Linked DNA regions of Homo sapiens. The protein of the gene in region 2 purifies or fractionates together with the protein of the main gene of each other region. This does not show direct contact. Each region holds a gene or a part of one and is shown on either strand. Other genes may lie near its edges. The genes, in order: HMG20A, LLGL2, PPFIA1, UBE2A, DCAF1, RAD18 and UBE2O.

The links.
Region 1: the proteins of LLGL2 (region 2) and HMG20A purify together in Homo sapiens (affinity purification with mass spectrometry; 2 studies listed by BioGRID and IntAct, with this or other methods). This does not show direct contact.
Region 3: the proteins of LLGL2 (region 2) and PPFIA1 purify together in Homo sapiens (affinity purification with mass spectrometry; 2 studies listed by BioGRID and IntAct, with this or other methods). This does not show direct contact.
Region 4: the proteins of LLGL2 (region 2) and UBE2A purify together in Homo sapiens (co-immunoprecipitation; 3 studies listed by BioGRID and IntAct, with this or other methods). This does not show direct contact.
Region 5: the proteins of LLGL2 (region 2) and DCAF1 purify together in Homo sapiens (co-immunoprecipitation; 4 studies listed by BioGRID and IntAct, with this or other methods). This does not show direct contact.
Region 6: the proteins of LLGL2 (region 2) and RAD18 purify together in Homo sapiens (affinity purification with mass spectrometry; 4 studies listed by BioGRID and IntAct, with this or other methods). This does not show direct contact.
Region 7: the proteins of LLGL2 (region 2) and UBE2O purify together in Homo sapiens (co-immunoprecipitation; 3 studies listed by BioGRID and IntAct, with this or other methods). This does not show direct contact.

The regions. Positions count from the first base shown.
Region 1 is NC_000015.10:77,472,254-77,476,432, reverse strand, and holds part of HMG20A (high mobility group protein 20A), read right to left. Parts: intron 1-4,179. UniProt on the Homo sapiens protein: Plays a role in neuronal differentiation as chromatin-associated protein. Acts as inhibitor of HMG20B. Overcomes the repressive effects of the neuronal silencer REST and induces the activation of neuronal-specific genes.
Region 2 is NC_000017.11:75,531,667-75,535,845, forward strand, and holds part of LLGL2 (LLGL scribble cell polarity complex component 2), read left to right. Parts: exon of another isoform or gene 1-1,212; intron 1,213-1,633; exon of another isoform or gene 1,634-2,039; intron 2,040-4,179. UniProt on the Homo sapiens protein: Part of a complex with GPSM2/LGN, PRKCI/aPKC and PARD6B/Par-6, which may ensure the correct organization and orientation of bipolar spindles for normal cell division.
Region 3 is NC_000011.10:70,375,190-70,379,368, forward strand, and holds part of PPFIA1 (liprin-alpha-1), read left to right. Parts: intron 1-1,342; coding exon 1,343-1,411; intron 1,412-2,840; coding exon 2,841-3,006; coding exon of another isoform or gene 3,007-3,014; exon of another isoform or gene 3,015-3,282; intron 3,283-4,179. UniProt on the Homo sapiens protein: May regulate the disassembly of focal adhesions. May localize receptor-like tyrosine phosphatases type 2A at specific sites on the plasma membrane, possibly regulating their interaction with the extracellular environment and their association with substrates.
Region 4 is NC_000023.11:119,577,178-119,581,356, reverse strand, and holds part of UBE2A (ubiquitin-conjugating enzyme E2 A), read right to left. Parts: intron 1-4,179. UniProt on the Homo sapiens protein: E2 ubiquitin-conjugating enzyme that accepts ubiquitin from the ubiquitin-activating enzyme E1 and transfers it to a E3 ubiquitin-protein ligase. In vitro catalyzes 'Lys-11', as well as 'Lys-48'-linked polyubiquitination.
Region 5 is NC_000003.12:51,398,594-51,402,772, reverse strand, and holds part of DCAF1 (DDB1- and CUL4-associated factor 1), read left to right. Parts: intron 1-3,945; coding exon 3,946-4,004; 3' UTR 4,005-4,179. UniProt on the Homo sapiens protein: Acts both as a substrate recognition component of E3 ubiquitin-protein ligase complexes and as an atypical serine/threonine-protein kinase, playing key roles in various processes such as cell cycle, telomerase regulation and histone modification.
Region 6 is NC_000003.12:8,942,763-8,946,941, forward strand, and holds part of RAD18 (E3 ubiquitin-protein ligase RAD18), read right to left. Parts: intron 1-4,179. UniProt on the Homo sapiens protein: E3 ubiquitin-protein ligase involved in postreplication repair of UV-damaged DNA. Postreplication repair functions in gap-filling of a daughter strand on replication of damaged DNA.
Region 7 is NC_000017.11:76,442,732-76,446,910, forward strand, and holds part of UBE2O ((E3-independent) E2 ubiquitin-conjugating enzyme), read right to left. Parts: intron 1-4,179. UniProt on the Homo sapiens protein: E2/E3 hybrid ubiquitin-protein ligase that displays both E2 and E3 ligase activities and mediates monoubiquitination of target proteins. Negatively regulates TRAF6-mediated NF-kappa-B activation independently of its E2 activity.

The DNA.
Region 1 (4,179 bases), on a different chromosome or scaffold from region 2:
GCTCACTGCAACCTCTGTCTCCCAGGTTCAAGCAATTCTCCTGCCTCAGCCTCCCAAGTCACTGGGATTACAGGTGCCCACCACCATGCCTGGCTAATTTTCTGTATTTTTTTAGTAGAGACGGGGTTTCGCCATGTTGGCCAGGCTGGTCTTGAACTCCTGACCTCAGGTGATCCACCTGCCTTGGCCTCCCAAAGTGCTGGGATTACAGGCTTGAGCCACCGTGCCCAGCCTCCACTAGTTTTTTAAATCTTTGAACACAAAAATGACTTGGTGCCCAGTAGAAAAGCTAAGCAGTTCACAGCTTAAGAGGGAAATCTGACACCCGAGCTCCTGTATTCATAACGGTGGCCGCCTAGTAAGGGGGCTGGGCTGTGTGAACCACCTGCCAATGGCAGCTGAGCAAGAAAGACACTGAAAAGCTATGTAATTTCAGAGCACTTAATTTCTACTTGTATTTTTCTTCCTAACAAAAGAAAGCAAAGTTTCCCAGAATAATTTGAAAATGAACAACAAAATTATCAATCGAAAGTCCCAAGTTTCAACATGCAAAGCTCTACCTCGAGCCAGTTCCTAGGGGATTTCAATGGAAACTAATGTATGAACAAGAAAGGCTGGTTCCAGAAGGAATCTTAGCCATATTTCGCAGTGGCTTTCTCTCAAATTTGCTGGCTTCCCATATGCTTTAACTGTTACTGGGCTGCTGCAGGAAAACAAAACTTAATGACACACAATCCCAACATGCACAAGGCATAACAGATATAAACATAAGTCCACAGATGACAGCATAAAGACTTAGGACATTATCATCCTATCTTATTCAATCTCCAACTTAACTGCAGTTACATGAGATCAGTTACCTAAGCTATACGTCTCAATATCTGCCAGTTAGATGGGTAAAGTGGAGACGCTTGGCTCCCATTACCATGGTACAAAGATCCCTCTCCTCCAAAGTCTTGACTCTCCTCAGACTGGTAATCTTTTCTCTTCTTTGCCAGAGCAGTCCAAATCAAGCTAATTATGTAAGGGCAGAGGACAGCACCACATAGGTGCATTAACACACTGCCCCTTGGTACAGATTCTCAGAGCACAAAATAAGAAACATTAAAGCAATTCAATGAAACTGTTCAGTCTCTGAAAGGTAACAGAGAAATTCTACTTAATGGAAGAGTGGTAATAAAAACCATCAGCGCTCTTCCATTACTGAGCACATTTCACGGCATGGAGAGGATCCTTCTGGGGGCTTGGGTGTACTTAAGCTGCTCCAAGGATAGCTCAAAGGATTAAAATCATAAGGATCTGATTACCCTTTCACTGAAAGGGTCTAATTTGTTCAAGCTGAGTGTCATTCTGTCATTTCTCATAAATTAAAGGAGAAACAAAATTATTGTTTCTATCTTAGTTTTCACATGAGATATAGACACTTTCTTGAGAGTAATACTCGCTAACTCTTGGGTCTAGTGGGCTGGCTTTCGATTTGAGAGGAGCAAGAATATTCTTCACTTTGGTTTCCATTCTATATATTGAGTGGAGGTTAAGAGAAAAGAGGCCCTTTTGAACTGAACCTATTTTGCTGTGATCTAGGCTCAGGGCCAGAATTTCAAAGAGTGTGATATGTGCTTCTCTCAAGAGACTTTTACTTTGGGAAATGCTCTTAACATTGTGTACCAGCCTGAAGTGCCCCACTGCTATGCAGAATGGCTTTCAGGTCAGCATTTCTTTAGCTCTAATATGCCCTCTCCAGTACCTGCCTTGGTAACAATGACTTAGGGATCCAAGTTTCATTTAGGAATACAATAGGTTTCTTTACTATACACAAACCAAATAGTTTACTTAACTGGCAACACATTTTGCTGACACCTTGGGCAACGAGGCCCATTTTTACTTTCAACGCTGTAATTTATGCTATGTAGCATGGCACTGTGCTGTCAAGAATGTTAGACTATGACACAGAAGGCCTGGGTTTCTGTCACAATTCTGCCTCTAATTTAATTCAGTAAGTGATTCTGGGTAAATTCTTTCCATTCTATATACTGTCTTAGGCAAGTCACTTTCCTCACTGGCAAAATGAGGTGGTCAGTTGAGAGGATCACTGAGTCTCAGTGTTTTACTCCTCATAGGATAAGTAAAGGGAAATAAGTATGTATTTAGGATCTATGGTCTTTAGACACTGCAAGATATTTGCTCTTTTATTAAAAACTTACTCATACCTCTGCTCAAGCCATTTTACCCACCCTGAGATGCCCACAAAACCTAGGTCATTTTTAAGTCCTGATTCAATTACTCCTTTCCATGGGCTCCTTCTGCGGCTGCTTTTCACCCATAGTGCTATTTTTCTGAACTTCTATTATACTAAGAAGTTATATGTAAGAAAATTACTGGGTAACAGTGTTTAAAAACAGTTTTAAAACTTTCAAATCAGTTCTTTTATACTGCAATTGTTCTAAAATTATCTAATTTAGGAAACATATTATTCAGTGAAAAATAAAAATGGATGAAGTAAGGGACATTAATTGGGTCAACACGCTTACTAAAGGAGCTTTATCCTGCTGTGGCCATACCAACACATGGATTTACAGAACCTACTGTATAACCTTTTAAGAAACAACTGCTGGCTCTCCATCTACTCACTCCTTTTTTTTGTTTGGTTTAACATGTGTCTAATCCTGTAACAGGGAAATACAGAGACTCACTTCTTTTTGCAAATCACAGAAATTACAGAAATTCATATCACACTAATGTATCTGAATAAACACCTTCACTTCTCAAATAATCAGCAGCAGGTTCTATGATACAGACTAAATCTACATCTTTTCTGACTGCAACTATCAAGTTTACTGAAGACAAAAATGCTACATATAGTTTGGCCAGCAAAATTCATAGTGATGAAATGAGTCAGATGACTGACACCTATTCAGATGACTGACTAGAAAATGTGAGATCTAATGTTTCAGGTTACTGTCCAAATTCTCTTTGGTAACTGTTAAGGATAGAGAAGCTATAAAATAGAGAAAAAAAGAAGCACAGGAATTTCATGATATTGATAGCTGGGCACACAGGCAAAGAAAGAGAGAAGTAATTATACAAATGTCTGCTAATATGAAAAGTTTACAATATTATTATGATTTAAAATACAAAGAATACATACAAAGTTTCTCCAGCAAAACAACATAACATTTCATCCTAATTAGAGCATAGAATGTCATATATAATTACATTTATATAGGATTTATCTGAAGAATAAAATGTAAATATTTACTATGCTTCTCACTTTATAATTCATAGATGGTAATAACGTCTATTTGACCTGTGAATCTGAATCTTTTCTCTATGTTTTAAGGTAACCAACATTTCCTTGATTTAGTAAAAAACCAAACACATGTAAAAGAGTACATCAGAAAATTCTTTTTGTTCAAATTCTCAGTTATTTCAGGTCAACTTTGAATAGATTCCATAAAATAATCATTTGTGGAATACCTTCTCAAGGCAAAGGTATCATGATAGGTGGTATGGGGTTGGATATAAAGATGGAAACTAGACTGTGTATGTCCACAAAGACATTACAACCAAAGAGTGTGAGCCCTTGAATTACCTCAAAACCCCTAGGTCAGATCAGCTAAGCACATAACACAAGTATAGAGAGCCATGAGGGTTAAAGGAAGTTAGAGGAAACAAGAAAAGTTTGAAGGAGAAAACAGAATTTGAAACAACACACACACCTAAATCCCATACACACACAGAAACACAGGCCTAAATCCTAACAATGGGGCTGAACCAAGTGGGAGGAAAGAAGCCAGTACACAAACATGTGCTAGTGAAGTGAGGGAATAGGAAAGGAGGTGTGAGAACTGAGATACTGGGCCGGGCGTGGTGGCTCACGCCTGTAATCCCAGCATTTTGGGAGGCCAAGGCGGGTGGATCATGAGGTCAGGAGATCGAGACCATCCTGGCTCATATGATGAAACCCTGTCTCTACTAAAAATACAGAAAATTAGCCGGGTATGATGGCACGAGCCTGTAGTCCCAGCTACTCGGGAGGCTGAGGCAGGAGAATTGCTTGAACCCGGGAGGCGGAGGTTGCAGTGGGCTGAGATTGTGCCACTGCACTCCAGCCTGGGCGACAGAGTGAGACTCTATCTCAAAAAAACAAAAAACAAAACAAAACAAAAAACAAACCTG
Region 2 (4,179 bases):
CCCAGCGGGGCCACCAGCACTGTTTGCCCTCCCCAGCCCTGGCTCCCTAGGAATTCCAAGGAGACCCTCGCTCACTGTGCCCGTGGCCATGGCTTTGCTCAGGTCCCTTTGGGGTGGCCTTCCCCACAGCCCTGCCTCTCAGAGGAAACTGGCTTTGAATACTCACCCCTCTCTTCTTCCCAGGAACCACAGCGAATTCTTGAGCTAGGAGAGGCTGCTCTGGGCGTGGGGACGAGGAGGCTGCAAGGCACCTGACTCTACCCTTCAGGAATTCGGCAGAGACTGGAGCCTTCTCTCGAGACACCTGACTTAGTGTTCCCAGAGTTTGATGAGAGGGACATCTGGGCACAGGACCATATGACTGTAATAAATTATATATATGTATATATACACACACACACACACACACACTTTTTTTTTTTTTTTTTTTTTGAGACGGAGTCTTACTCTGTGGCCCAGGTTGGAGTGCAATGGCATGATTTCGGCTCACTGCAGTCTCCCCAGGTTCAAGTGATTCTCCCACCTCAGCCTCCCCAGTAGCTGGGATTACAGGTAGCTCCCCAGTAGCTGCTACCATGCCCAGCTAATTTTTTGTTTGTTTTGAGACGGAGACTTGCTCTGTTGCCCAGGCTGGAGTACAGTGGCGCGATCTCAGCCCACTGCAAGCTCCGCCTCCTGGGTTCACACCATTCTCCTGACTCAGGCTCCCGAGTAGCTGGGATTACAGGCGCCCGCCACCACGCCCAGCTAATTTTTTTCTTTGTTTTTTTGTTTTGAGTCTGAGTCTCGCTCTGTCGCCCAGGCAGCAGTGCAGTGGCATGATCTTGGCTCACTGCAACCTCTGCCTCCCGGGTTCAAGCAATTCTCCTGCCTCGGCCTCCTGAGTAGCTGGGATTACAGGTATGCGCCACCACACCTGGCTAATTTTTGTATTTTTAGTAGCGGGGGGGTTTCCACCATGTTGGTCAGGCTGGTCTCTAACTCCTGACCTCATGTGATCCACCTGCCTCGGCCTCCCAAAGTGCTGGGATTACAGGCATGAGCCGCTGCGCCCAGCCCTCTAGTAAATAATATTAACATTTAATATAATTCTGGAATTCTCTGGGGGTCCTGGAGCTTTGGTTAAAGGCAGGGTCCACAAGGGTATTCCGAACAGGATGCCAGGCATGACGTCCACAGGGCCCTGGCCTTGGCCGGAGACTTGAGGACAGGGTAAGGAAGTTCCCTGAGAACCCTGTGGGGTCCTACCTCAGTGTTTCGTGGGGTCAGTGATTGGCAGATACCTTTTCTAGTTAATCCCTAGTCAGTCTTAACTGTTCGTTCATTCATTCAAGTACTTTTTTTTTCTTTTTTTGAGGAGTCTTGCTCTGTCGCCCAGGCTGGAGTGCAGTGGCGCGATCTCGGCTCACTGCAAGCTCTGCCTCCCGGGTTCACGCCATTCTCCTGCCTCAGCCTCCCGAGTAGCTGGGACTACAGGCTCCCGCCACCACGCCCGGCTAATTGTTTGTATTTTTAGTAGAGACAAGGTTTCACCGTGTTAGCCAGGATGGTCTTGATCTCCTGACCTCGTGATCTGCCCGCCTCAGCCTCCCAAAATGCTGGGATTACAGGCGTGAGCCACCGCACCTGGCCCTTTTTTTTTTTTTTTTTTTTTTTGAGATGGAGTCTCACTCTGTCACCCTGGCTGGAGTGCAGTGGCACGATCTCGGCTCACTGCAAGCTCCGCCTCCCAGGTTCACACCATTCTCCTGCCTCAGCCTCCTGAGTAGCTGGGACTACAGGCGCCCGCCATGATGCCCAGCTAATTTTTTGTATTTTTAGTAGAGACAGGGTTTCATCATGTTGGCCAGGATGGTCTCGATCTCCTGACCTCATGATCTGCCCGCCTCGGCCTCCCAAAGTGCTGGGATTGCAGGCATGAGCCACCGCGCCCAGCCCGTTCAAGTATTTTCTGATGCCTCTTGTGTGGTTCTAGATGTTGGATGTGATCCTTAAACAAAGCAAAGATGTCTGCCGTCGTTGAAAGTTGTTTCTAAAAGGTGAGAAGCCTGACTGACAGAAAGTAAAAGTAACTAATAAATTGTGTTAAAAGGTGATACGGGCTATAGGGTAAAAAGAACTAGAGCAACAATTGGGAACCCGCATGGTAGGGGGCAGGTTACAACTTTTAACAGGTGGTTAGAGTGGGCCTCTGCCAGAAGGTGACATTTGAGCAAAGCTTTGAAGGAAGTGAGGGAGCTGTTTAAATAAAATTCCAGTCCCTCCCATGAGGCACCTGGATGAGGCCAGCACAATCCCCACCTCCTGGAGCTGACATCTGGAAGCTTCTTGGGACAGCTGTTCCAGTTTTAGGGCAGGTAGGAGGCCCTAGAAAGGGGCCTGATTGGATGGGCTGGATGGCCTGCCCACGCCAGCCCCAGGCAGGTGGTCCATCTTCTCCCCAGAATGGTTTTGCTTTTCCTTGGACTTGGCTTTCTGCCAGTCACTTCCCTGGAGAGAGAGTCTGGTGTTGGATTATGAAAGGGGGCTAAGGCCCCCAGAATGGGGGTGCGTTCCCACCTTCCACCCCATCCTCACAGGCCCAGGAGGGGCAACAGAAAGGAAACTTCAGGAGGAGTCTAGGCATGGCGGGAGGATCCTCTTGGGGTTGTGGGATGGTTGTGATTCCATAGGATAGATGGTGGGGGGAATGGAGGCTGACCCCAAATGGGGCCCATCCAGCCTGCGAGCAGGCAGCCCCTTTGTCCTGGGAGAGAGGCCTGACCTGAGCGGAGGATTCTGCAGTCAGATTGGAATGCAAATTGGGGCTTGGATTTTTTTTTTTCTTTTTTTGAGAAAAGGTCTCGCTCTGTCACCCAGGCTGGAGCACAGTGGTGCCATCATAGCTCACTGCAGCCTCAACCTCCTGGGCTCAAGTGATCTTCCCACCTCAGCCTCCTGAGTAGCTGGGACTACAAGTGTATGCCACCATGGCTGGCTAATTTTTAAGTTTTTTGCTGAGACAAGGTCTCCCTAAGTTGCCCAGGCTGGTCTCGAACTCCTAGGTTCAGTGGATTCTCCTGCCTCGACCTCCCAAAGTGCTGGGATTACAGGCATAAGCCACTGAGCTTGGCAAAGGACTTGGACTCTTGACTGTTTGAGCTTGGGGCCACTCTGAATCGATCACTTCATAAGTAATTGTAAGAATTAAATAAGGTGAATGTAAAGTGCTAAAGTCACATCCAGCCATAGCTAGCTCTCAATCCCTTTTACTACTTAATTAACAACAGCGGGGACGACAGTCCTCCAGTCATGCCCCCATTCCCTCTGGTTTGTGTTCCCCTAGATCCCACTCCATGGAACTGCCTTTCAGCCAAGGTTTGGTTGCTAAGCTGCTGGCCAGGGACCTGCCTGGTGCTTCTGGGAGACTGGGCTTCCCAGGGCGACATGGGCACTTGCAAAGCGGCTACAGGCGTCTGAGTTGGCACAGATGCCGCAGGGGTCAGCAGCTGCCTCTGTGGTTTAGATCCCTGCCCACCAGTGCCATCAGAGTAGGAGGTGCAGGGGCGGATTCACATCCGTCAAACAGGAGGCCACAGCCACACTCAGGCCTCACACAGGATGTCGCAGAGGGGAAGGCAGCTTCTTAATCAGCAGCGGGCTGTGGGGAGCACGAGCGAAGAGGAGAGGAGAGCATGGGACATCAGGTGGCACGCCCTGAGAGCAGGCAGCTGGCGCTGGGTGCGGCCCGGGGGCCCTCTCTGGTTTCGGCTGGGTCTGGAGTCCTGCCGCTGGGTGTGGACTCTCCCAGCAGATCAATGAGATCAATGGAACTTCCCGAGCTATGGAGGGAGTTTCTTGAGGGCTGGCCCCTCCCACATCTCCAGGCCAGAGGGCTGGCTGGGCTTGGCCAAGCCTTGGTCTCACAGGGACAAATTAGCCCAGGTGCCCCAAACAGTGGCAGGGTGGGAGAAGCAGTCTGGCCTGGGGATCCCCTCTCCTCCGAGGCACAATCGCATCTGCCACTTAGAGCGAGGGGGGCCCAAGGCAAGTCCACCCCGTGTGGTTATTCTCTCTCTCTGCCCCCACTGGTCTCTTTCTTGAGCTCTTGAGATGGAAGGCGGGCCAGGGTGTGGATTTTGTGGCCTGTCACCAAGTGGAGAGCTCTCCTGTTCTTTCCAAGTGGGTGTCCAGGTGTGT
Region 3 (4,179 bases), on a different chromosome or scaffold from region 2:
AAAAAAAAAAAAACTTCAGACAACTAGTTTTTGGTTTTTTTTTTTTTTTTTGGTCTATTGGCTTTCCCTTTTCTGTTGGAAGCATGAGAGTCCTGCAATAAACCAGATAAGGACGATCTTTCATTCCAGCCCATGTGCCTGATCAGAAGAGTGACATATATTTAGTTCTTACATGGAAAGAGAAGTGTTTTTAGGTGTGCCACATGAAGATTTTATTAATTTTGTTTTTATGGGTAATTGCCTTATGCCATTCTTTTTGACTCATGGGCTCATTTGAAAAACAGGGAACTTTTATTCCTCTACAGAACATTGAATATGCCAGGCAAGGTGGCTCATGCCCACAATCCCAACACTTTGGGAGGCCCAGGTAGGCAGATTGCTTGAGTCCAGGAGTTCGAGACCAGCCTGGCCATCATGGTGAAGCTCTGTCTCTACAAAAAAATACAAAAAAATTAGCCAGGTGTGGTGGCACATGCCTGTAGTCCCAGCTACTTGGGAGGCCAAGGCAGGGAGATTGCTTGGCCCGGGAAGTGGAGGTTGTGATGAGCTCTGATTGCGCCACTGCACTCCAGCCTGAGTGACAGAGTGAGACCCCCATCCCAAAGAAAAAGGAAAAAAAAAAAAAAAAATTGAATATCTTTGGCCAATACCCCTGACCAACCCACACAACACACCCTTGTTAATATGACTCCAAGGATCATGGATCCCTTTCTGCAAAAGCCCATCCATTGACTCCACATTAGATGCCCTGATTTAAAATATTATTATGGTTCAATGTAGTCATAGCAGTGAGGGAGTTGTTTTTTTGTTTGTTTTGAGATGGAGTTTCGCTCTTGTTGCCCAGGCTGGAGTGCAATGGTGCAATCTTGGCTCACTGCACCCTCTGTCTCCCAGGTTCAAGTGATTTTCCTGCCTCATCCTCCCAAGTAGCTGAGATTACCGGCACACGCCACCGTGCCCGGCTTATTTTTGTATTTTTAGTATAGATGGGATTTCACCATGTTGGCCAAGCTGGTCTCAAACTCCTGATCTCAAGTGATCTGCCTGTCTCGGCCTCCCAAAGTACTGGGATTACAGGCATGAGCCACCACACCCAGGCCCTAATTTTTGTATTTTTAGTAGAGACGGGGTTTTACCATGTTGCCCAGGCTGGTCTTGAACTCCTGACCTCAGGTGGTCTGTCCGCCTTGGCGTCCGAAAGTGTTGGAATTACAGGCGTGAGCCACCAGACCCAGCCAGCAGTGAGGGAGTTTAAGTCTTGGTTTAAAAAACAATTACGATGCTAACACCCTTCAAATTAGATTTGATGAAAGTTTTATTTGTTTTTCTTTGGTTATTTCAGGCTCGTGCTGTCTTGGAAAGAGAATTTAACAACCTTTTGGTCATGGGGACTGATAGAAGGTTTGATGAAGTAAGTTTTTGGCCTAATGTTCTTTAAATGTCTGAAATGTGTGTAAATGTTTAAATGTGTGTGAAATGTAAGCTGTTATTATTATTATACTTGGGACATCATGTAGCTAGGCAGTCTCTCTGGATGTTAGAAGTCAGGCTTTGCTCTTATACATTTATTCACAAATGAGCCTTTAAAAACTAATACCTGGGCCGGGCACGGCGGCTCGCACCTGTAATCCCAGCACTTTCGGAGGCTGAGGCGGGCGGATCACCAGAGGTCAGGAGTTTAAGACCAGCCCGGCCAACATGGTGAAACCCCATCTCTACTAAAAAACACAAAAATTAGCCGGGCGTTGTGGTAGGTGCCTATAATCGCAGCTACTTGGGAGGCTGAGGCTGGAGAATCGCTTAAACCTGGGAGGTGGAGGTTGCAGTGAGCTGAGATCGCACCACTGCCCTCCAGCCTGGGCGACAGAGAGAAACTCCATCTCAAAAAGAAACCCCCTCCCCGCAAAAAAAAAACCCACAAAAGTAATACCTTCAAGAAGGTAGTTTTGTTTTTATTTTTGCTATTTAATTTTTGACATCCCTCAAAAATGGTTTTCACATCATAAAACATTGGTTGCAGCTTAGGAACAGAGTCTGTAAGTTGGGTTTTGGGGACCAGTAGTTATCCTACCCCAGTCCAGAGTGTACCCCCATACTCCTGTGCATGGGTGGGGTGGCATGTTTCAGAAGTATATTAAAAACACAAAATGTTAATTTCCCCTTAAAACCATGACTCATTTGTTCCACACGATTAGGAGTCTCTTAATTGGACCTTAAGAAAAGTTGAGTTTGACAGAGAGAATAGAAGACCACCTCTAAAGATGAAGCACTTGTTGCTATATCCTGGCATAAGATAAAATTGTTTCTAGTTAAAAATTGTTTGTAGAGCTGCGTGTGGTAGGGGCACACCTGTAGTTCCAGCTACTTAGGAGGCTGCGGTGGGAGGATGGCTTGAGCCCAGGAGTTTGAGGTTACAGTGAGCTATAATCACACCACTGCATTCCAGCTCGGGCAACAGATCTAGACTCTGTCTGTAAAAACATAAATAAAAATGAAAAATAAACTATTTTTAAGATAAATAAAAACGTATTACGTTGCAAGAAAGTGATTCCTGCAAGGTGTAAGAAGTAGAACATGATGCTGTGGAGAAGGAGCACATCCTCATGGCCCAGCACCGACCTCATTTCGCCAGCTGAGGCCCAGCCGGACCATCACCATGCCCCGTTTCACGCTGAAGTTCCAGGTTGGGCAATATATTGTGTGGTCATCAAGAAGGGATTAAATACATGTGGACAAGAATACATTCTCGAGATCAGCAGTCATTTTAAAGGACATGTAACTTTACATCTCTGACCTTTATTTTTTAAATGAATCTTGTTTTTTGTTCCTTAATTTACCAGGATGATGATAAAAGCTTTAGGAGAGCACCTTCATGGAGAAAAAAGTTTAGACCAAAGGACATTCGTGGCTTAGCTGCTGGGTCAGCAGAGACTCTCCCTGCAAACTTCCGGGTGACTTCTTCTATGTCTTCCCCCTCTATGCAGCCAAAGAAGATGCAGATGGACGGTATGTGATGGGTCACACTAACCTGTCACTTGTTGGGAGCATGAGCAGCTTTCTGTCTGGAACATTAATAATGATCTAAAACGGCCTATTTAATATGTTACAAGGCACTTGAGTATGGTTGCATGTCCAAATATAAATGTTTTTAAATTAACTCTAACATTTGTTTATAAAAGTTTAACCATAATAATAGAATTTTTAAAACACGCTTGTCTGGTTGAATCTTAGCATATTTTTCCAACTAATAAAGCTCAGTATTCGTCTGTGTTCTCAGAGAGAGACTGAGGCATACTTGTAAATTTGTGTCTGTGACAGGCCGTGCTAGAAAGCTCTTTCAGGAAATAGTAGTGTAGTAGTAGCTTCCAAACCACATAATTTACTGCTCTCCACACCAGAGAAAATAACTGAGTACATTTTTAAGAACACACAGTTTCCAGCTTGTGTGAGCTCTGCCTATGCTTTCTGCCCTCCCTGCTGCTGCTGTTCCGTGCAGTCACATGTCTACCCATTAGAGGGCAGGGAAGGGAGGAAGGTGAACCTCCAAGAAGTCCCCAGTGGAGCGAGGCAGCTATTGACTATACCAGCCAGAGAGAGAGCATCACTGCCATGATTTCACATGCAGTTTGGGATTTTCCCTTAGACGGCCACTTTGATTTGAGGTTAACAGTTGACCATGGCTTCCTTACAGGTCTCTCAACTCTGCCCTTGTACTCATCTAATGAAAGGCAGTGCACAGGTTGAAGAGCCAGGCTGCCTAGGTTTGACTCCAGCTCTGCCACTAGGAGGTGCATGACCCTGAACAAGTCATTTAACTACCCTGGCCTCGGTCTCCCCATCTGTAAAATGGTCGTCATGGTAGTGTCTTCCTCATAGAGTAGTTGCGATGATTGAATGCCTCATTCATTAAGCTGGTGAAGTTCTGAGCCCGTGTCAGTCGGGGCTGTTTGGCAGCCCCTGTGCTACACACAGGTCACTCATGCTCACTTCTGAGGCCAGTGAGCAGACTGGAGGAAAGGAAGTGGCATTAAAAACTGTGCTAATCCTTGAGGCCAGGAGTTTGAGACCAGCCTGACCAACATGGCGAAACCCCGTCTCTACAAAAAAAAAATACAAAAATTAGCCAGGTGTGGTGGCACATGCTTGTAATCCCAGCTACTTGGGAGGCTAAGGCACAAG
Region 4 (4,179 bases), on a different chromosome or scaffold from region 2:
GAATTGCTCTAAGAACTACTCAAATGTGATTTTTTGTTTTGCCATTATTTTCCCCCAAACTTGGAGACAGCCATCATAAACACAAAATTACTGCTTACAAGATTTTAGCCACTGTACATTTTGAAAACATCCTTAAGAAACTGGGCCCAAAATTTGGCCTTCTTCCTTTAGAAGACCAAAAGACCTCAAAGGCCTATGTTAGTCAGCTGCCATCTTAAACGCTCCAGTGATTTTTAGACAGACTAGAAAGAATGAAAGCACAATGGTTCAAAAACCAATGCCAGAATACAAATCCATAATCAAGTTATTTTTAAAATAGAAGGGAATAAGTATAAAAGTGTTCATACTGGTTCCTTTTCATGTCATAGTGACCCTATAATGAAAACTTAATTGAATTTAAGCCAGGAAAAACTTCATAGTCCCTCTCAGAAACCCTTAAGTATGGCTCATAAGGTACTTCACTATAAAATCAACTCAATTATTCACACATATGGAGGGAATTAATGGCAGAAATAATTTTAAAATCACATTTGGTTTAGATTGCATTCATGTTTCCAGCAAATTTATTTTTCTAATGTTTATGCTACTATTGAAATGAAATTATTTTTCTTAAATATATGTCAACCTAAGGTAGCAGGAGGCCCTAAAGCATAGTAGGTTATAAACTTACTTACAAGGCATGGACAAACTGGATCTCATTCAAGAATTGTTAAGATGTGATATGAAGAGATTATGTCCTTTAAAATATTATTTTCAATTGTTTGTTGAATAAATTGAAGAACACAATTGAGCAATGTTTTTTCCTGACTGAAATCTGTTCAAGTAAACTTAGAAGAATCAGTTACTATATGGTATAAGGTGATGCATGTTCCACTATATTACTCTGGTCCATTTAACAAATTATTCTAAAACAACAGACCATACTTCAGTGTATTTCTTACTGGTTCCTTCAGAGTTAGCAATTTATTTCCTTTTTGTTCTCATTAAAAGGTTTATCACTGCTTAAGAAAGAGAGAAGACTATAATCATTCTAGGACTAGATCTGTGACAAAACAGTATCAAAAAGTTTGTTTTTAGCAAGCTCATTGGAAACAATTTGCTAACAAAGCTGCCCTTACTATGAACAAGTGTCTCAAAGCTTCAAAATAATATAAAATGCAACATACAGAGACATTATATTCCTCAAATTATTGTTACTCCCTATTTTCTTTTCAAAGCCAGACCTGAAGATACTATGTATTATAACTAAGAAAGTAAAATCTTATGGAATGGACAAACATATGCCCATTAGAAGTATGGAAGTATGTCCATCAGAACATACTTCACCTTTATCACCACCTGGTCATAAATCTTCCTCTTTCTGAGGAAGAAAGCACAGTTCTTCCTTTTCAGTATTTATTGACACTATAATATGCAAGAAAAAGTGGGAATGTGTTAGAGTTCAAAACTTTGAGTTTCCTTATGTATTATGATCTCAAGTGTAAACACATTTGGATCAATGTTGCAATCTGACTAAATTATGGGTAAGAGACACTGCTCTAAAACTGGGCAGATGTAATAGCACATGGAGATCCCAGCTACTTCAAAACCATCACTAAATATGGTATCTAAAGGTAGTAAAGCAAGACATAGGGAAGCCATAAGCAAAAACAGTAAAACACACTGCTAAGAGCATGAGCTCTGCAGTCAGACAGGTCTGGGCCCAAGTCCTTGCTTTGGTACTTACTAGCTGTGAGACTTTGGGGAAGGTGTTCTCCTTGACTAAACCTTAAGTTCCTCATTTGTAAAATGAGATTAATCATAGTACCCACCATATAGCATTGTTGTGAGGTTTAAATGAGAGGAATATGCATAGTTCCACAAAGTTAAGTGCTCCAAAACCATGAGCAACTATTTTTGCTATAATAATTCTAAAGTTTCACATCTCTAGACTCAGCTGAAGGAGGCAAAACCCAAAAATCAGAACTATCAGTAAGAAATATACAATTAAGGCATTCAGATATTAAACAGTACTTTTAGGTCTACATCAAACACTCACAGTTCAAAGCAAGTTGAGTACCTATATTGGTGGCTCACAAGTTCCTTGACTTGAGCTTTCTGCATACACTTGCCCAGAAGTTCAACTAAGTGATTACCTAGCTACCAAAGAAGTTAATCGCAAGTCTTTTAAAACAGTTCACTTAATATCTTGAGAAGTGAAGCAACCTATTTATGTCTACTTGAATATAAATTAAGACAACCCAAATCTTATTCAAGGTACACATTAAAAAGAGGGTAAAAACTTCACACTTTTAGTCACACTAATCAGAACCTGTTTAGTATAACCTTCAATGTAATTTCTAAGCTCTAAAACAAATGTTAAGGGAATTTAAAATCCCAGAATTAGTATTATGCAGTCTTGAGACTACAGCTTACCCTCTGAATATTTAGAAGGCTAGGCTTTAAAATAACTGAAAATTTAAGCCTCACCATTGTTGTACATAATGTATACTAATTTTGTTCATCTTCCCGAGGAGGCTAAGACATCGTAAGGAAAGTATCAATTAATCCATCTATACAGGGAGACCACCAAAATTACATAAACGTGTTAAGTGACTGGTGTATGGCAATAAGGAGTGATATGGTTGAACTAGAGGGGGTATATGTTCTGCCTAAAGACACTCACAAAGTCAAGTTTTGGAAAATACTGTGTTGGCCAAAGAAAACACACCTGCAGGTGTTTTCTGCCATTTGGCCACCAGTTTGTGACCCCTGAGAAGAAAGCAAAATACATATAACTTCAAAATTATTTTTGATGACTGAAAATCGATTTTTCAAGTAATATCCAAAACTCTTCATCATAGGATTTATTTATATTTAAAACACTCTTAGTGGACTTTAGAGATTCATTTTGAAAAAGATTTTATGACTCAGAAACATTTCCAAAAATTAAAAAAAAATAAAAACGATTTATACCCCAATTCTAAAGAACACATCTATTATGAAAAGCAAATACCAGTACCTTACCATGTCTATTAACAATTTTTAGATTATGTGATGAAGATTATATTCCATAACCTTTGTATTTAGCATGTATACCAAGATATTCTGATGAGGAAGCATTTCTCCCCAATGTTTTGGTAGTGTAAGCTCTTGAGAATATATTCCTCTTACTTCGAGTGTGTGAAGTTAAACCAAAATACCCTTAAGTGTTGCTTGTCTTAAGATTTCATCACTCTAACTAGGACCTGGTTGTTCCAGAAACTTCCATAACGAACGGTTTACAACAAAGAAGCAAAAGTAGTTTTGGGGTTCTTAATTAATAACATAATACATTGGAAACAGCAAAATCAACTATGCCACTTATCCCTAATCAGTCTTTTCTCTAACTGTAAATTCCCCAACTATAAATAAAGGGTATTCAAAAAATGGTTAAGGCTGGGCACGGCTGCTCATGCCTGTAATCATAGCACTTTGGGAGGCCGAGGTGGGCGGATCACCTCAGGTCAGGAGTTCGAGACCAGCCTGCCCAACATAGTGAAACCCCCTCTTTACTAAAAAATACAAAAATTAGCTGGGCATGGTGGTAGGTGCCTGCAATCCCAGCTACTTGGGAGGCTGAGGCAGAAGAATTGCTTGAACCTGGGAGGCAGAGGCTGCAGTGAGCTGAGCTCGTGCCACTGCACTCCAGCCTGGGTGACAAGAGCAAAACTCCATCTCAAAAAAAAAAAAAAAAAAAAAAGCTAAAATTTTTTTTGTGGGGGAACCACAGGCCACAGTGTTCCAGACACCTGAGGAAGCATCCATCGGTAGCAGACTGTTCAACAGAACAAATCAGCCTGAGTAATTCCTTTCAGTAATGCTAGGATGGAGATACACATCATCAAAAATAGAACCAGTAATGTCAAAGGTGACAGTCCTGGTAGATAATGGACTCTGTAAGTACCTTTTCAATTCATACCACTTAAGAGAAGCACCCTTGAAATATTTAGGTAGCCAATCCCCAGCAAAGTGATGTACTATTAATAAAGCTGTGCCCAGCATAAAACAGAGTAAAACGAGGAAAAAAGAAGCCAATGAAAACAAGGCCTACTAGAGCTAAAGCAAACACAGTTAATCTGTACATTTAAAGCTCAGGTATAAAGAACTAGTGCTCGCCGGGTGCGGTGGCTCAAGCCTGTAGTCCCAGCACTTTGGGAG
Region 5 (4,179 bases), on a different chromosome or scaffold from region 2:
ATGAAATCCTGTCTCTACTAAAAATACAAAATTAGCTGGGCGTGGTGGCACATGCCTATAATCCCAGCTACTTGGGAGGCTGAGGCAGGAGAATCGCTTGAACCTGGGAGGCGGAGGTTGCAGTGAGCCGAGATCGTGCCACTGCACTCCAGGCTGGGATAATAGAGTGAGACTCCATCTCAAAAAAAAAAAAAAAAAAAAAAAAATGCTTTGTAGGGTATATGGCCTTTGTTGCAGCTCTTCAACTCTGCTGTTGTAGTGAGAAAGCAGTCATAGACAATCCGTAAATGAATGATTGTGGCTGTGTTCTAATAAAACTTTGTTTTGCAAAAATAGGTGGTGGGCTTGTAGTTTGTCAACTCCTGCTTCAGAGGATTAGCCTTAGAATGAAAGGCCAAAGTGTAGCTCTCCGCCGAGAGGCATGGCTAGAATCAGTCAGAAGCAGCCCCTCATGGGGTGCTGTTCTTTTTGGGGTGAATTATAAAGAAATGCAGGCCCTCTTGTGGAGGAGCCCTTTCCTGTCTCCCTTTGGCTAATCCCTCCTAACAGCCAAGGGGAAAATATTTTCCCTTTGGCTTCTGGTTTATTCACTTCCTTTTATTTACCTTTTTTTCTTAATCCAAATTTTGAGGAACAAACTCCAGTTCTTCTAGTTATTTCCCATTAGGTTTCTGAAGTCAAGTTGTCCCCTGACTATGGTAATGAATCCTGCAGAAATCAGCAAATAGTTCAAAGAGGCTGTTAGCTCTGCAGCTGTACATGAATCTTCTTACCAAGGCTGTATTTTGAGGAAGCTTGAGGGTGGGAGGGTAGGGGAGTGTCTTCTATATGTTCATCTGCTGTTCATCAACTTCTGTTTTTTCATACTTGGAGGCTGAGGTGATTCAGTGGAGTAGGCCGAAGCCTGGTCAGACAAAGTTTTAATGAACGTTTTTGTCACGTGTGAATAGTGAGACATGGGAAACAAGTTATACCTCCTTTCAATTACAAGTAGTTAGCAGGGCAGGTTCGCAGGGTCAGCAAACAGCAGGCCAGCTGATGGTGGTGCTCCCAAAATAAGAGAGCATCACTTTAATTTTTCCATTCTTAATTTGAATATAAAGCCACTCAGTTTGTATTTGGCCTGTACAATTACTGCCTCTTTTAGCTGTTGAGGAAATTCCTTCTTTCAAGCCAAAGGTAATCTGGAAAACTTTAACTCTATCAGTTGTGAGAATGTTGTTACTTTATGAGAATATTTACGATGTGAAAATAATGGATCACAACTTGAGGACGTCTCAGAGTGGACTTCAGAATTGAGGTGGAGATGCAGAGGTGGCATCTGGAGCACACTCCATGGCTCTTTCTGTGTTTCATAGAAGAGCCAGCTGCTGTCAGCAAGGAGAGCATTCTTAGCACCCATGGTTTTGCCTAACACTAATCCTTTAGAGCAGTAGCTCTGAACCTTACTGGGCTTATGAAGAGCCCTTTTAGGATAGGGTGAAAGCCATAGAAACTATAGAAAACCACACCCATGCGCCCCCACGTACCTTTACGTAGGCCCTGGAGTCTGCAGGGACTCCCTGATTGCAGATGCAGAGCCCTGGCCCTAGGAAGAGAAACAGCTTGATTCTGAGATCTTTTTTTTTTTTTTTTTTTTTTGAGATGGAGTCTCACTCTGTTGCCCAGGCTGGAGTGCAGTGGCGCAGTCTTGGCTCACTGCAAGCTCCGCCTCCCGGGTTCATGCCATTCTCTTGCCTCAGCCTCCTGAGTAGCTGGGACTACAGGCGCCCGCCACCACCCCCAGCTAATTTTTTGTATTTTTAGTAGAGACAGGGTTTCACCGTGTTAGCCAGGATGGTCTTGATCTCCTGACGTCGTGATCCGCCTGCTTTGGCCTCCCAAAGTGCTGGGATACAGGCATCAGCCACTGCACCCGGCCTGATTCTGAGATCTTTATGTGTCTCTGCTTGTCAGCCCTGCCTCCAGAACCTGTATGTTGTAGAGCGATAGGTTAAACACTACAGGGATTAATTATACCTAGATTGTCTGCCTTAGCGACCTTTCAGAATGGGAGGTCCTAACCAGGGTTTGGGATTGGGTCACTTCAACACTTGGAGAATGGGGAAAGGATAAGGAAGGTGGGGAAAGGATAAGGAAGGTAGAGAAAGGCGTCCTATGGTCTGACCACCAGAGGGGAGTTGGTGCCCAAGCCCTGGAGGTTTTCTCTCAGACCTTGAGCCTGACAGTTACTTGCTTAAAGAAGATTGTGCTGTGACCTCGTTAAGCTGCATTTACAGTTCTTAGATGTGCTACAGCGTGGTTAAGATTCTTAGTTCTTAAGAGCTGCATAGCTGCTGGGCAGAAGGGTCTCAGGCCGGTGGGTCTGGCATTGTTGGCTTGTGGAGAGCATGAGTCCTGGGGGATGCTGTGGATGCTGCCGCAGGGACCAGGCAAGTTTGTGGTATGGGGTGGGGACACAGTGCTGGACTTGGCTCTGGGGAGGAGGCCCCACACCCTCCTGTGACACTTCCTCCTGGAGCTCTTACAGCAGAGGAGCTGAGGCTTGCTTTGTTCAGCTGTGTTAGATAATAGTTCTTTGCCATCTCCATCTTGTTTTCCTACTCTTCACCAATACATCACCAATACAGTCAGGCCACTCTTGTGCCCACTTAGACCCAGGAACACTGGTTTTGTCAGCCATTTCTTTTGCTTACTTCCAGACTTTTTTGTATCATTGCCATGCTTTTCTTGGTTTTCCTTTGTCCACTTCAGTTTTCCTCCTAAAGGAAGTTGTGTTTGGGGATAATGAATGAAGGAAGGTTTGGGAACATGATTGCTCTCTGTTTGTCCAAGAGTTGATTCTCTTAGGCACTGGAAAAAGGCTGATGAGGGATTCTTTGCATCTAGTGGCTGCCCCTTACCACATGGGGCATTTGCAGGGCTCCAGCTCAGGGTTTGTCTGTTTTACGGGCTCAGGGTTTGTCTGTTTTATGGGGGACCTAGGTAAAATGGTTTCATAGCCTCCTGAGCTACGAGTAATCAAATTGGGCACTGAGAACTTTCCTTTTCTTTGACTCAGCGAATATTAGAGTCCCTACAAGCTAGGTACCCTGTTTCTTTCTGATTTTGATCAGCCAGACATGGTGTATCTACCTCATCTTGAGGGTCCTTTTTGCTACCACTTAAGTTTCACCCCTTAACAGATCCTTCCAGAAGTGTTAATGTGTCCGTGTGCTGCCAGAGAAGGCAGATTGTCAAGCAGAGAGGGTCCTCATCAGAGACAGTGCTGTCTTCCAGGGCGTCACACTGCTCCCGCTGGCCTCCTGCCTCTGGATGGGTAGCTACTTCTCTTGTATTGCTGCAAATTGGCCTGCACCTTTTTGGGAATATAATTTGCAGACTATATTCTGAAATTACAGAGGCATGAATCTAGGGTGACTATCTCTGCCTTGGTGGTCGGTCTTCTGAGGATTGAAGGGAGTGACTAAGGTGTTTCAGAAAAGATACATCTCTCACTTTTGCCTGGTCTTAGCCTGCCTTTCTAGTGGTCTCTTGGGGTCAGGCAGGCCTGTGCGTATCCTTGAAGGACAGCAGAGGCCAAGGGCCATGGAGGCTTACTCACTGCTCCCGTCAGCTCTGCCCCTTTGCAGCCATTTAAAGTGGCATGGGGGGAAGCTTCAGATGGCACTCGCTTGATCCCTTCAGCGCCTCCCAGGCAGGAAGCAGGGGAACTGTGTCCAGGCCCTTAGGAGAGCAAAAGGTCTCCGGGAGAATACAACTGCCAAGCAACAGGAGTATTCTCCAGAGCCAGCTCCAAGGAGTTAATTGATGTGTTTTCTTCTTTCTGGAAACTGGTAGTTAACCTTGCTCGGGCATGAATGTATGTGAGTGCAGGTGCTTCTGTAGGAAAGCTTCCTATAAGCCTAGTGTGTAATCTTGTCTCTCCCTTTTCTTCCCTTTCAGCTGACAGCTCTGACAACTCTGATTTGGAAGATGACATCATCTTATCTCTGAATGAGTGAGGAGCCATCACTGCTTGGAAGAGATTCTTGGCAGGCGAGAAACTGAGTCAAATGAATTCAGAACATATTCCCTTCTCTTTCTCCCAGGGCTGTCTGTCTTTTAAGGAGCTGCATGCCCTGCATTCAGAAGATTATGGCTTAGAGAGCCTCATTGGCACCCGAGGGTCCTTCCAGA
Region 6 (4,179 bases), on a different chromosome or scaffold from region 2:
CTGAAAGGGAACCCCACCAGTCTGCTTAGAAATTCACATCCATTCCTGCTCATTTCCAGGGCTGCACATGATTAGACAAAAACACAGGAGACCCACTAGGAAGCTGATACTGGTAAATTAAAATCCCAAACGTCAGTGCTGGAAAGTTAGTTGTTCGCATTGGAGCCCAGCCAAAGCTGAGAAATCTTGGTAAGATCATGGACATTCAAGTGACACCCCACAAAGACCACACCTTAGAAAAATGGACCACACTGAAGAAATATAAACAAAGCTCAAACAGACCTAACCTAAGAAAACATTATACCAGGCCTTGACAGAACAAAGATGAAGAGCTGATAATTTAACTGCCTCTTAGAACAAAATGTGACATCTTTCAAAAGAAGACAATTCACAGCTTCTACAACGTTTCAACCACAATGTTCAGCACATATTTTAAAATTATTGAACATGCAAAGAAGCAAGAAAAAGTAGCCACTAATCAAGAGATAAAATATTCAATAGAAGCAGACCCAGAGGTAATCCAAAGAATAGCATCTCTAGGTAAGGACTTCAAACTATGATAAACATGTTAAAGAAAAAAAAAGAAAAGGGATAAAAAGATAGTGTATTATGAGAAATAAAATCCATAAAAAAGAATAAAATGAACATTCTACAACTGCAAAATACCATATCTAAATTGGATGAGTATAACAACACACAATACAAACTTGAAGGCAGGTCAATAGAAAATATCCAAACCAAGCACAGAGAGAAAAATGAATGAAAAAGACAAACACAAAAAAGTATGAGATATTGGGCATAATTAAAAGCCCAGAAGGAACAGAAAGAAAGAATGGGAAATCAGCAATACTAGAAAAACCAATGGCTGAGAATTTTCAAATCTGATAGAAAAAAAAAATCAACCCATAGATTCCACCACTACCGAATTTACATGAAACGCAACAACAGAAAAATAACTAGAAAATCTCCAAATGTTAAGAAATAAAGCACCACACTTCTAAATAACCCCGCATGTCAAATCACAATGAAAACTAGAAAAATATTCTAAACTGAACGATAGCATGAAGGGTTGCCAAAACTGTCCCTGGAGGGAAAATTATTGAAAATAGAAAAAGTAAAAACCACCACTCTAAGCTTCCAACTTAAAAGGTTAGGAAATGAACAGCAAACTAAACCCAAAGAAGAGAGAAACTAATAACAGATACTAGTGAAATAGAAGAGATAACAAGAGAAAACAAGCAAAGCCAAACATTGGTTCTTTGAAAAAATTAACAAAACTGTTAATCCCTACTAAGACTGAACAAGAAATAAATGAGAGAAAATACAAATTACCAAAACAAAGAATTAAAAGAAGACCTCGTTACAAATCCTATAAAGAAGATAATTAGAGGATATTATGAACACTTTAAAACAACAAATTTTAAATTTTAGATAAAATGGACAAATTCTTTGAAAAGCACTATTCATCAAAACTGACAAAGAAACAGAAAACCTGAAGAGCCCTTATTATCTGTTAAAGAAACAGAAGCTATAATTTAAAACTTTTCCACAAAGAAAACTCCAAGCCCAGATGGCTTCACTGGTAAATTCTACCACATATTTAAGGAAGCTTTGTTTATTTCTTCAGTGTGGACATGGTGGCACATACCCATAGTCCTAGCTAATTGGGAGGCAGAGGCAGGAGGATCCCTTGAGCCCAAGAGTTCGAGGTTACAGTGAACCATGATCATGCCACTGCACTGCAGTCTGGGCAACAGAGCAAGAAGAAGAGAGGAAAGGGAGGAAGGGAAGGAAAGGGAGGGAGGAATAGACGGGGGAGGGAGGAATAGAGAGGGGAAGGAGAAAGGAGGAGGGAGGGAGAAAGGAAAGGAGGGAGGAAGAAAGGAAAGCAGAGAGGGAGGGAGGGAGGGAGGAAGGAAGGAAGGAAGGAAAAGTCTTGTCCATCTGTTAACTATACAATAACCTTACCTCTTCAGAATGGGGCTAAGAATCAAGAGTCAAAATAGGCCTTTGGGTAGACATGGGCAGCCATTAAATCTATGCAATCAATTCCATGGACTTCTGTAACTAAAGTCCTGCAATGCTTGTTCTGATCAGAAACATGTAAACAGCAGTCTAGAACCATTTGGCTAAACAATAAACTGTAGTCGGCCCTTCCCATCCACCAGCTCTGCATCTGTGGATTCAACTAATCACAGAGCAAAAATGTTCAAAAAATAATAAAAGTAACAATACAACAATGAAAAATAATATAAATTTTAAAAACACAGTATGACAACGATTTATATAGCATTGTATTAGGACTATAAGTAACCTAGAGGTGATTTAAAGTATAAGGGAGGATGTGCATATGCAAATACTATGCCATTTTATGTCAGGGACTTCAGCATCCACAGATTTTGGTATTCTCAGGGGTCCTGGGACCAATCCCCTTTACTGAGAGACAACTGTACTAAATTTGATCGTTTTTAGAATGCAAACCAATAAAGAAATGTGTAATTCTATTGAAAGAAATCTGTTTATATTTTTAAAAGCAACATAAGGTACCTCATAGAATGTTCCAACATGCTTTGTTCAACAAGAGACCAAATACACAGTGGTGGTTTCATTAGACGATAATGGAGCTGAAAAATTCCCATTGCTAAGTGACATCTTGATAATCCTAACCCTGTGTGGGCCTAGGCTAATGTGTGTGTTTCCATCTTCTTTTTTTTTTTTTTTTTTTTTTGAGACGGAGTCTTACTCTGTCGCCAGGCTGGAGTGCAGTGGCGTGATCTCGGCTCACTGCAACCTCCAACTCCCTGGTTCAAGCGATTCTCCTGCCTCAGCCTCCCAAGTAGCTGGGATTACAGGTGTGTGCCACCATGCCCAGCTAATTTTTGTATTTTTAGTAGAGACAGGGTTTCACCATGTTGGCCAGGATGGTCTCGATCTCCTGACCTCGTGATCCACCCACCTCGGCCTCCGAAAGTGCTGGGATTACAGGCGTCAGCCACCAAGCCCGGCCTCCATCTTCATTTTTAAGAAAAAGTTTAAAAAGGAAAAAATAATAACAATTTTTAAAAACAGAAAAAACCTCACAGAATAAGGATATAAAGAAAGATGCTTATACAGCTATACGATGTGTTTGTGTTTTAAGCTAAGTGTTATTACAAAAGAGTCAAAAAGTTAAAAAAATATAAAAGTTTACAAAGTGTAAAAGTTACAGTAAGGTTAATTATTGAAGAAACTTTTTTATAAATTTAGTGTGTAGTCTAAGTGTACAGTGTTTATAAAGTCTACAGTAGTGTATGGTAAGGGCCTTAGGCCTTCACATTCACTTATCACTCACTCATTGACTCATCAAGAGTAACTTTCAGTCCTGAAAGCTCCATTCATAGTAAATGCCCTATAAAGATGTACCATTTTTTATCTTTTATACCATATTTTCCCTGTACTTTTTCTATGTTTAGATACACTAATAGGTACCATTGTGTTGCAACTGCCTACCGTATTAGCTATAGTAACATGCTGTACAGGTTTTGTTACCAAGGAGCAATAGGCCCTGCCATATAGAATAGGAGTGTAGTAGGCTATACCATGTTGGTTTGTGTAAGTACACCGTATGATGTTCACACAGCAACCAAATTGCCTAATGACACATTTCTCAGAACACATCCCTGTTAAGCAACACATGATTACACTTAACTACAGGGGCACCTGACCACTATCTAAACCAGTACGTCCTTCATAAAAATTCTTGTTTGACTTGCATGATTAAAACTAAAAGTAATCCAAGATATTGAAACATGCCTTTTCATATCCCTTTGGGTGACCAAACTCACTTTCACACATTCATGCATTTGACAGGAAGTAAAGTTGCATATCTGAGCTTTATAAAGTACAAGCAATTACATATTTCAAATGCCATACCATTTAATACATGCTGAATAAATCCGATTAAGAATTAACAGATTAATATATAGCAGACAGAATCAATTATAGATATGTGTATATACATGAGTTAGTACATACATATATATAACATACATATATTACTTAGCTCTGTCCATTGAGAGGGCCTAGAAGCAATGACACCCCAGTAGCAACAAGCATACCCAGCACCAGATCCTGGTCTCTAAATACTATTCTCCAAGAAGAGGAGCTCCTTGGAGAAATGGCTGATTCTAGGGCTTGGGC
Region 7 (4,179 bases), 910 kb from region 2:
TGATCAGAGGCTGGGTCCTGACACAATCCAGGCGATCACTTGGGAGGTCAGCCCTTTGGAGGTCAGTTGGCGGCAGCGCTGTTCACTGGTTGAAGGAGGACTAGAGGCAGGGAGACCAGGGAGAAGGCTACACAGTGCAGGCATGAGGCAAGCAGAGAGCAAACCAGGGTTGTGAAAGGGAAATGCAGGCACAGGATGCAAGAGGCCTCTCAAAGAACTGATGACAAGTTAGAATGAGGGCCAAAGAAGGTAAATTAAAAATGACCCCAAATGCTCTAATTTTGAGAAGATTCAAGCTTAGGTATTTAGGGGTGAAGTGCTATCATGTCTGCCACTAACTTAGCAGGAGTTAGTACCAGACATAATTCAGGAGGAAATATATTTACATAAGCATACAGATAAGGCAAATATGGCAGGATGTTAACAACTGCTGACTCATAATGGTTGGGGGTTAGCAATTACTGGCTTTCAACATTTTGGTATGGTCAATATTTTTTCCTATTAAAAAGTTGGGTCTTGGGTTCAGAACCAAAAACAAAAAAAGTTGGGGAATATATATATATATTTTTTTCCTCGAGAAAGAGTCTCACTCTGTCGCCCAGGCTGGAGTGCCGGGGCACGATCTCGGCTCACTGCAACCTCTGCCTCCTGGGTTCAAGCAATTCTCCTGCCCTAGCCTCCCGAGTAGCTGGGATCACAGGCACCCACCACCACGCATGGCTAATTTTTGCATTTTTAGTAGAGATGGGGTTTCACCATGTTGGCCAGGCTGGTCTCGAACTCCTGACCTCAAGTGATCCACCCACCTCGGCCTCCCAAAATGCTGGGATTACAGGCGTGAGCCACTGTGCCCAGTCAGAACATTTTTTTTTTTTTTAAGTCCACAGACTTGGGGATGGGAAGGGCAGTCACAATCACAAGATTTTATACCCACAAAGTCTACATGGCACAATGGAGCTATCAAGTAAGCAGCTGGGCATGTGATGTCACTGTGGAAGTCACCTAAATACAGGTACCAGATGCAGCTACAAGCAGGGAGGTCACTCCAAAAAACTGGGGAGGAAGAGATAAAGAAAAGAGAGGTCTTTGGAAAAGCTGCACATCTATGGGTAAGAGGAAGAAGACAAAAGGCAAAAAAGAGAAACATTTGGTATAGTCTGGTATAATAGAACCCCAAGGAAGGAAATACCGTTAAGAGGGCATGGTCGGCCAGGCGCGGTAGCTCATGCCTGTAATCCCAGCACTTTGGGAAGCTGAGGCGGATGGATCACCTGAGGTCAAGAGTTCGAGACCAGCCTGACCAATATGGTGAAACCCCGTCTCTGCTAAAAAGACAAATATTACTCGGACGTGGTGGCGGGAGCCTGTAATCCCAGCTACTTGGGAGGCTGAGGCAGGAGAATCGCTAGAACCCAGAAGGCAGAGGTTGCAGTGAGCCAAGGTTGCACCACTGCACTCCAGCCTGGGCGACAGACTGAGACTCCATCTCACAAACAAAGCAAAACAAAACAAAACAAAACAAAGAGGGTGTGGTCAGCTAGGCACCGTGGCTCACGTCTGTAATCCCAACACTTTGGGAAGCTGAAGTGGGAGGATCACTTGGGGTCAGGAGTTCGAGACCAGCCTGGCCAATACCATGGTGAGACCCTGTTTCTACAAAAATATTTTAAAAAGCCGAGTGTGTAGTTCCAGCTGCACAGGAGGCTGAGGTGGGAGCACTGCTTGAGCCCAGGAGGCGGAGGCTGCAGTAAGGTGTGATCACGCCACTGCATTCCAGCCTGGGTGACAGAGCATAAGGCTGATGGATCAAAATGAGGACAAGGACTGAGAAAATGTCAGCAAATGCAGTGATCAGAAATTCACTAGTCATTTGTGACCTTCAGGGGAGCCGTCACACTCAGTGGTGTGAGAGGTTAGACAGAAAATGACTGAAGGCGAGAGCAGGTCATGAGGAAATGGAGGCAGACATCCATTTCCCCCAGTACAGTGCTGGGATGACCCAAAAGCACACTGGGGGACCAGAGAAATGCTTTCTTCCTTGGCTTGAAGATGATGTCATCAACCTTCAGGGCCCTCAGAATCCCTTAAATAATAAAACAGTCAGAGCACATGAATACCGGGATGCTTTCAGCACTGCATATGTCAAGCCCTGAGGCTCCCAGAATCCCTGGAGACGTATTTGTGTGTCTACACTTCCCACCTGCACTAGCGGTGACCACACACACAGTCCGGTGACCACACACACAGTCCGCTGAATCTGCCGGTCAAGGTATCTATCTTCAACTGCCCTCTTCCAGAGGGAGCTCCCACAAAAAGGACCAGAATTAAAAGGAGGAGGAAGAACATCATCGGAGCTGCTGAGTGTGAAAAGACCAGCTCTCTTGCAGGATGCAAATGAAGGCCTCTCTTTTTAAGGGTGCCTGCAGGAAATCTCTCTGTCAGTGCTAGCTGGGAATATTCATGTCATTGTTGGGTAGGACTGACTGCCTTTTTTTTTTTCTTTTTCCAAGCATGACTCAGTGTTTTAATTTTTTTTTTTACTTTCAATTATCATAGTCAGACTGTTTCCCAGGTATAGTTATGCTATCAATTTAAACCAAAAGTGACCTGAAAAATGTCTTACTCCTTTGACTTAGCTGCAGAATATTAAATATTGCTGTGGCCTCTCTAAAAATGCAAACCAACTCAAAATCCCCCAACCAAAGAACCAGATTAAACCCAAAAAGGACATTCATTCCAATCCTTATTGCCCACTGAATACTTCTGAGTGGTATGTCAACTGACTGCAATGTTTAAACCATAAAAATGTGCTTTTCACAATACTGCTTCAGGAGAACACAGCCTACCTGTGTCTAGGGGTGACCTGGACAAAGCTGACCCAAGGATCCATCCAATACAGTCAGCCTGGATTGAAGGACATTAAATCCTCAATCACAGAGTATAGCTAACGAATGAAACAAAGGCAAATAACTTGGAGTAGATAAATCCAGAGAGTTATCCAGTAACACAATTCAATTTTATTCTCAACTACAGCAAATTCCAATAAGCATTTTGCTCTTCCCTGGCTATAACTGCACACATCAAGTGGCTCCTGACAGAGTCCCCCCGTGGCTGGCTGGAATGTCAGAAGATGAAGCAATTCCGAACGGGCACTCTTGCTCAGTAAGAGCTGCAAATGTGGATGGGCAGCATTTAGACCATGACCTTCTCCAGGACTGGCACCCATTCATGGGCAAGTGGAGCCTCAGGAAGGAGCTACAGTTAAAAATACCGAGATCCTATTAAGTGAGAAAAGTGATAGCCTCTTGTAAACTGGAAAGCACATTATAGACGTTCCTGATTGTAACTTGCCCCTTTTGATTGTCATTTTAAATCAGCAACTCCCCATCGCCATCCAGAAGCAGGCTAAGCCTTGGGCAAGGAAATTCCAAAAGCTTCCATCAGAATAGGAGCACAGATCATATCCTCCTGGGTGAAAACCCACATGTCACAGAAAACCACCCTGACTCCAACTCTGAGGGGACCGACCACCAGCGGCAGCTGACACTGATCACGTGCCCAGGACTGTTGTGCTGGCAATTCATGTTATACACGACAATTGCACCCTTTTAAAAAGTGCTGGCCCCCAACAGGTTCCACTGGATTCCATGAGCCCCCATGGTGGGTTAAGTAGTAAAAAATAGAAAAAGTTCCTCTTAGTATAACAGGAAAATGAAAAAACAAAAACAAACAAAAAAAAAAACCAAACAAACAAAACAGAGAGAAACAGGGATAAAAGTGAAGTAGAGATGGGGAAGGTGCAAAGAGGCCTCTAATGTCCTAAAGCAAAAACACACGGAAACTGAAGGGAACAGAAACTGAAATTGAGGTGGAACTCAGCCTCTCCAAGGAATCCTTCCTGAACCTGTCTCATGACTCAGCATTCCCAGCCGAAGGATGACAGCAGCAGAGCGGACAGGAGGTCAAGTTGGAGCTCCTAATGGAGCTGACCACTTCTGAGGCAACACAGAAATGCCAGTTACGTGGAGTGTCTGCACACTTGTTTTGCTCTAGGAGGTGGAGTTGGGGAATAAAACTGAACTGCAGTTCAGTGTTGGAATGAATCAGACTACAGAGGTTGCTTCATTCAACATTGAGGGGCAGTCAAAGGTTCTCTAGAAATGCAATGTGTTTTTGACA